Homo sapiens: one gene and its partner. The protein of the gene in region 1 purifies or fractionates together with the protein of each later gene. This does not show direct contact. Each region holds a gene or a part of one and is shown on either strand. Other genes may lie near its edges.

Evidence for each region.
Region 2: the proteins of HELZ2 (region 1) and CRY1 purify together in Homo sapiens (co-immunoprecipitation; one large-scale study listed by IntAct). This does not show direct contact.

The regions. Positions count from the first base shown.
Region 1 is NC_000020.11:63,567,512-63,571,326, reverse strand, and holds part of HELZ2 (3'-5' exoribonuclease HELZ2), read left to right. Parts: intron 1-458; coding exon 459-642; intron 643-715; coding exon 716-823; intron 824-1,661; coding exon 1,662-2,179; intron 2,180-2,327; coding exon 2,328-2,969; intron 2,970-3,572; exon of another isoform or gene 3,573-3,676; coding exon of another isoform or gene 3,677-3,699; coding exon 3,700-3,815. UniProt on the Homo sapiens protein: Can degrade highly structured RNAs through its concerted ATP-dependent RNA helicase and 3' to 5' exoribonuclease activities. Shows a strong preference for pyrimidine over purine residues for its nuclease activity.
Region 2 is NC_000012.12:106,995,827-106,999,641, reverse strand, and holds part of CRY1 (cryptochrome-1), read left to right. Parts: coding exon 1-91; intron 92-1,575; coding exon 1,576-1,727; intron 1,728-1,951; coding exon 1,952-2,154; intron 2,155-2,255; coding exon 2,256-2,348; intron 2,349-3,815.

The DNA of each region.
Region 1 (3,815 bases):
CAGGAGCTTGGAGCGGGGCAGGAGCCCACCACAGGCAGAGCCAGAGGTTCCCAGGAGCTTGGAGCGGGGCAGGAGCCCACCACAGGCAGAGCCAGAGGCTCCCAGGAGCTTGGAGCGGGGCAGGAGCCCACCGTAGGCAGAGCCAGAGGTTCCCAGGAGCTTGGAGCGGGGCAGGAGCCCACCGTAGGCAGAGCCAGAGGCTCCCAGGTTCAGTGGACGGGGGCCTCCCTGCCACCTGCTGAGGGCTAAAGCCATGTGGCCTCTGAGGACCCGGATAAGGGAGGTTCATGTTTGGGAACTGCTTGAGCCAGGCCTTGTCCCGGGAGCACAGGAGTGGGTGGGACGAATAAAGCCCCTGCTCCCTACAGAGGCCAGTATTGGGCTGAGGGGTCCCGGCCTTTGAACTCAGCACGGCGGCTGTGCCTCTGTGTAGCCCTGCTGACCTCCCTGTCCCCCAGGCCTGACCTCTGTGAGTATGGGGACGCCTGCACCAAGGCACACTCAGCACAGGAGCTGCAGGAGTGGGTCCGGCGCACGCAGGCTGTGGAGCTGCGGGGGCAGGCGGCCTGGCAGGACGGGCTGGTGCCCTACCAGGAGCGGCTGCTGGCCGAGTACCAGCGCAGCAGCAGTGAGGTCCTTGTGGTAAGTGGGCCCTGGGAGTGGGTGGGGTGGGGTGGGGTCCAGGCCTCTTGCTGAAGGCTAGACTTCCACGCAGCTGGCAGAGACCCTTGATGGAGTGCGTGTCACCTGCAACCAGCCCCTGATGTACCAGGCCCAGGAGAGGAAGACCCAGTACAGCTGGACGTTTGCCGTCCACTCTGAGGTGAGCGGAGAACAGCTCCGACTGGGCGGAGGGAGCCCTGGGGAAGTGGTGACTTCAGCCCGGGCAGACGTCAACAGCCTGGGTCATGGAGCTAATACCGAGGCACTGCCGCTCAGCACCTGCGTGACCTGCAGCAGGTCCCTTAGCCTCTCTGCCTCAGTCTCCTCACCTAGAGACAGGGGGCCAGGACAGTCCCACCTTGGCAGGGTTATTCTATGGAGTATATGGGTTAAAACAAGGATTTGGCCAGGTGCGGTGGTTCACGCCTGTAATCCCAGCACTTTGGGAGACCGAGGCAGGTGGATCACCTGAGGTCGGGAGTTCGAGATCAGCCTGGCCAATAGGGTGAAACTCCGTCTCTACTGAAAAAAAAAAAAAAAAAAAAAAATTAGCCAGGCATGGTGGTGGGTGCCTGTGATCCCATCTACTCGGGAGGCTGAGGCAGGAAAATCACTTGAACCCAGGAGGCGGAGGTTGTAGTGAGTTGAGATCGCGCCATTGCACTCCAGCCTGGCGACAAGAGTGAAACTCCGTCTCAAAAACCAAAACAAAAACAAGGATTCACCAGGGTCTGGCACCTGGAGAGTGGGTGGTGAGGCCTCAAGCTGCCCACACTGCCCCACGGGACATCCACAGGGGCCCCAGGAGGGTTCAGCCACCCCCATGTAGCACAGGAAGAAACTGAGGATGGCAGAGGCCGGGTGGCCTGCTTGCGTTCTATCCAGGAAGTGGCAGGGCCAGGACCTGAACCCTGCACTTGGGCTACGCTGGCCAGGCTGCCTCTCGGGAGGGTTGGGGGGAGCCCTGGGCCCCCCTCACCGTCTGGCCTCCTCTCCAGGAGCCCCTGCTACACGTGGCCCTGCTGAAGCAGGAGCCAGGAGCCGACTTCTCTCTGGTGGCTCCCGGCCTCCCGCCAGGCCGGCTCTACGCACGGGGTGAGCGCTTCCGTGTGCCCAGCTCCACTGCCGACTTCCAGGTGGGAGTGCGTGTGCAGGCTGCCTCGTTCGGCACCTTTGAGCAATGGGTGGTCTTCGACTTTGGCCGCCGGCCGGTGCTGCTACAAAAGCTGGGGCTGCAGCTGGGCCAGGGGCGTCGCCCAGGACCCTGCAGGAATCTGGCGCTCGGCCACCCTGAGGAGATGGAGCGCTGGCACACTGGCAACCGCCACGTGGTGCCTGGCGTGGAGCGGACGGCCGAGCAGACGGCCCTGATGGCCAAGTACAAGGGCCCTGCCCTGGCCCTGGAGTTCAACCGCAGCAGCGTGGCCTCGGGCCCCATCTCACCAACCAACTATCGGCAGAGGATGCACCAGTTTCTCTATGAGGAGGAGGCGGCTCAGCAGCAGCTGGTGGCCAAGTGAGCTGGGGGCAACAGGAGCAGCTGGGGTAGCAGGAGCAGCTGGGGCAATGGGAGCGGCTGGGGCAACGGGAGCGGATGGGGGCGTGGACTTGGCAGCGGGGCTGGCAGCTGTGGCCCCATGAGCTGACCCAGGCCATCCTGCCAGGCTGACCCTGCGGGGCCAGGTGTTCCTGAAGACGGCATTGCAGACGCCAGCGCTGAACATGCTCTTCGCGCCTCCGGGAGCACTGTACGCAGAGGTCCCCGTCCCCTCCTCCCTGATGCCAGACACAGACCAGGGCTTCCTGCTGGGCCGGGCGGTCAGCACAGCCCTGGTGGCCCCTGTACCTGCACCCGACAATACGGTGTTCGAGGTGCGGCTGGAGAGGCGGGCCAGCTCAGAGCAGGCGCTGTGGCTGCTGCTTCCGGCCCGCTGCTGCTTGGCCCTGGGGCTGCAGCCTGAGGCCCGCCTGGTCCTGGAGGTGCAGTTCCAGATTGACCCGATGACCTTCCGCCTCTGGCACCAGGCAGTGGACACACTGCCTGAGGAGCAGCTGGTGGTGCCCGACTTGCCCACCTGCGCCCTGCCCAGACCTTGGTCTGTCCCACCCTTGCGGCGTGGCAACCGCAAGCAGGAGCTGGCCGTGGCGCTCATCGCGGGCTGGGGCCCTGGGGATGGGAGGCGTGTCCCCCCGCTACTCATCTATGGCCCCTTTGGCACCGGCAAGACCTACACGCTGGCCATGGCCTCCCTGGAGGTCATCCGGAGGCCTGAAACCAAGGTGCTCATCTGCACACACACCAACAGGTAAGCCCGAGCCTGGCCTGCCCCCACCTCACCTGACGCCCGGCCCAAGTCTACACCGGGCAGGCGGTCACCCCCTGGATGTGCTCCAGTCCTCTGATTCTGCACTCCCTGTAGCCGACCAGCTTTGGGCTTTGGCTTTATCAGGCCCAGCTCAGGGCACCGAGGGTGGCCGGGTCTGCTGTCAGGTGAGGAGCTGGGTGCCTCTGCCGGGGCCCTGGCCCAAGGAGAGTGTCACGGGGAAGGCTGCAGCATGGCCCACCCAGGACTTCTGGGGATGAGTCTTGTTTTTCGTTTTTATAGAAACACAGATCTTTGTCCTAACCACAAGGTTCCCCTTTGGTTTATGTGGTTTCCTCTGGTTCCTGCCACCACCACCTCCCCAGGCCGGGGCCTTCCCATCCCTGCCCAGTGGGGAGTGGGAGGAAGAGCCTGGGACAGTGGCCATACGTCCCGGGCTGATTTCTGGATTGGGGGTTCTGGGGACCAGGGAGGTGCAGGTGTCTGCAGTGTCAGAGGAGCCGCTGGGCTCGCCCAGGTGTTGCCTGAAGCCCTCCGTGGCCTCTTGCCCCTTGGACTCCTGACAGGAGGGACACCAGTGTTTGCTGCTCACCTCTGACAGCCAGACAAGGGCTGTGCTCAGGGGCAGCTCGGCTGGGCACACAGTAGGTGCTTTAGCGGACAGCACTGAGGCCCCCAGCAAGAAGCCCATGAGCTCCTCCCCCTCCCGCAGTGCCGCCGACATCTACATCCGGGAGTATTTCCACAGCCACGTCAGCGGCGGCCACCCCGAGGCCACTCCTCTCCGTGTGATGTACACGGACCGGCCGCTGAGCCAGACGGACCCAG
Region 2 (3,815 bases), on another chromosome or scaffold:
GGAGGGTTGGATTCATCATCTAGCCAGGCATGCAGTTGCTTGCTTCCTGACACGAGGGGACCTGTGGATTAGTTGGGAAGAAGGAATGAAGGTAAGTGTTCTAACTGATATAGCATGCCTTATTTTGAAGGAATCCTTACCTTAATAAAACAAATCCTAGAAGTTGTCTGTTTATAGATTCATTTATGGTGTAGTTTTTCAGTGGATAAAACATTTAATTCCCCAAATACGGGGACACTTTCAGAGAAAAATGGTATAATCAGACAAGCAAAAAGGTGAAAACTGGTTAAATTGATTAACCTAAAGTCATTTTAATGGTTAAACCAGCCTAGCCACTAAGAGAACTGTAAAATTTAACACTGAATTTGTTGATAGATATATTTATAGGTGATATTTCTATCACGAAAAGAATTCACTAAAGAGTTCCTAGAGATAGTGAATTCATATTATAAATTTTAAAATATAAATCATTTCACCTCACTTCTCAGCTTTTTAGTAATACTTCTATTATGTAAAGAGAAGCATACTACATTTTGTGACGACATCTTGTGGATTACACGTAATAAGACTTAGGTACTTTTTTTTTTTTTTTTTTTTTGAGACGGAGTCTCTCACTCTGTAGCCCAGGCCGGGGTGCAATGACGTGATCTCAGCTCACTGCAACCTACGCCTTCCAGGTTCAAGTGATTCTCCTGCCTCAACCTCCCGAGTAGCTGGGATTACAGGTGCCCACCACTGTGCCCAGCTAATTTTGCATTTTTAGTAGAGAGAGGGTTTTACCATATTGCCCAGGCTGGTCTTGAACTCCTGACCTCAAATGATCCCCCTGCCTCAGCCTCCCAAAGTGCTGGGATTACACGCATGAGCCACCGTGCCCGGCCATTACGTACATTTTTTACCTTTCTGGCAATACCATACATTTGCCCCATCCAAGGACCATTTCTGAGCTTGTGTGTGTGTGTGTGTGTGTGTGTGTGTGTGTTTAATCTCTTATATTTCCTAGTACACCGTTGTATACAAAGACAATATATAACATACTTAATGAATATATATAAAAATCATTTATTTTAATTCTATTTTCTTTCTGATCAAGGAATTCGAAATTAAACTATGTAATGCTAGTATATATTTTTAAGTGAATTTATATTTGAGTATGCTTCCTTTATTTAGGCTAGAATATGAAGCTAAGTTTTTGTTGGTGTTTTATGTAATAGCATTTTTGCTTTCTTGAAAGTGGTTGACTGCTTTTCCTGTGTCTACTAATAATATCCTTTTAAATCCACATCCTTTTAAATCAGTGATTTGAATATTTTTTTTACCTTCCATTCTCCCAGTAACACTGCAGAGGTTGGAAAAGTAAATTCTCTTCAGAAGCATACTATATTACCACTATGTTTCTTTCTCTGGAAGAGCTCATTATAGAACAGAACATAGGGAAGCTAACTTTGGAATGTTTAATTTTACAATTCTGTGCTAGATTTTCTTTGCCTTGACTTTGGCTCTACTGTGACCTTGAAAATGCTTGCTTTGCGAATTATGTGTGTGCAAACTAATTGGTTACTGTTACTTCTGAAGGTATTTGAAGAATTATTGCTTGATGCAGATTGGAGCATAAATGCTGGAAGTTGGATGTGGCTGTCTTGTAGTTCCTTTTTTCAACAGTTTTTTCACTGCTATTGCCCTGTTGGTTTTGGTAGGAGAACAGATCCCAATGGAGACTATATCAGGTAAATCAAGGGTGATTACTACTCAGTTTGGAATAGTTAATTCAAGAAGAGCTTTTCATGTTTAATCAATGCTTAAAGTATTCCCCACTCATGATGGGCAGCAGAGATGAGAAGGGTAAACAGATCATTTAAATGGTCTTGATTTGATTTTGGTCTGTCATAGCTAGTAGTTATAGTTTGCTTAGAGTGCATTTTATTAGTAATCTTTCTTTTTTCTCCCAAAGGCGTTATTTGCCTGTCCTAAGAGGCTTCCCTGCAAAATATATCTATGATCCCTGGAATGCACCAGAAGGTATCCAAAAGGTAGCCAAATGTTTGATAGGAGTTAATTATCCTAAACCAATGGTGAACCATGCTGAGGCAAGCCGTTTGAATATCGAAAGGATGAAACAGATCTATCAGCAGCTTTCACGATATAGAGGACTAGGTATGTTAAGAACTGTCTTTGTTTCTTTGGCAGCTGTTTATGTACTTATCTTTGAATTTTATCTTGATCATAATTTAAAAGAAAATTTTTTTGTCCTTTAGGTCTTCTGGCATCAGTACCTTCTAATCCTAATGGGAATGGAGGCTTCATGGGATATTCTGCAGAAAATATCCCAGGTTGTAGCAGCAGTGGAAGTAAGTGAAAAGGAAATTTCTGCACTTAGTAACATGAAGAGGTTATTAAACAAATATATTTGTTATTGATCCTCACTAACATATTTTATAAAAATCTGTCTTTGAAATTAGCTTAATAGATTCTTTGTATGCATGCATACATGTGCACCCAGACACATCTCTTCACTCCATTGATGACATTTTAGAGATGGAAAATATCATTACGTATAATAGATACTGGGTCAAGTTAAAGCTCTTGCAAACTGAGGAGAGCAATTTTAAGGATAAAATGAAACTCAAATGTCATATTTTCAGAATGCTTATTATTTTTTACTCCTTAGGTGTATGGCAACTATAAGGTAATTAGTTAAGAAAGTCAGTGGCCCTGTGAACATGGCCAAAAGATTTATTGTACACATGCATAGAGCCCTCTAGTCTTTTTGCACATAAGTTTTTCTTATAAAGTCTGGTCTGTAGTAGTTTTCTGTATGATACAAATTTAGTGACCATGTAAATTCTTATGTGTGATATTAATAATTTCAGGAACTCAGTATGTGTTAGAAATTTGAACCATCATATTAGTTTTTGGCTTTGACCAAAAATAGCATGAAGCTCAGTAATTTGATTAAAAAATAGGACAGCATCAGTGAGAATGGTGATTATTAAAAAGTCAAGAAACAACAGATGCTGGTGAGGATGCAGAGAAAAAGGAAGGCTTTTACATTGTTGATGGGATTGTAAATTAGTTCAACCATTGTGGAAGAGAGTGTGGTGATTCCTCAAAGATCTAGAAGCAGGAATACCATTTGACTGAGCAATCCCATTACTGGGTATATACCCAAAGGAATATAAATCATTCTGTTATAAAGATACATGCACACGTATGTTCATTGCAGCACTATTCACATTAGCAAAGACGTGGAATCAACCTAAATGCCAGTCGATGATAGACTAGATAAAGAAAATGTGGTACATATGTACCATGAAATACTATGCAGCCATAAAAAGGAACGAGATCATGTTCTTTGCAGGGACATGATGGAGCTTGTAGCCATTATCCTCAGCAAACTAAGGCAGGAACAGAAAACCAAACACCTCATGTTCTTGCTTGTAAGTGGAAGTAGAATGATGAGAACACATGGATACATGCGGAGAACAACACATACTGGGGCCAGGTGCAGTAGCTCACACTTGTAATCCCAGCACTTTGGGAGGCCGAGGTGGGTGGATCACCTGAGGTTGGGAGTTTGAGACCAGCCCCTGACCAACATGGAGAAACCCCCGTCTCTACTAAAAAGACAAAATTGGCCGGGCGTGGTAGCGCATGCCTGTAATCCCAGCTACTTGGGAGGCTGAGGCAGGAGAATCACTTGAACCCAGGAGGCAGAGGTTGTGGTGAGCTGAGATCGCGCCATTGCACTCCAGCCTGGATAACAAGAGCAAAACTCCATCTCAAAAACAAAAAACAACAAAACACACATGCTGGGG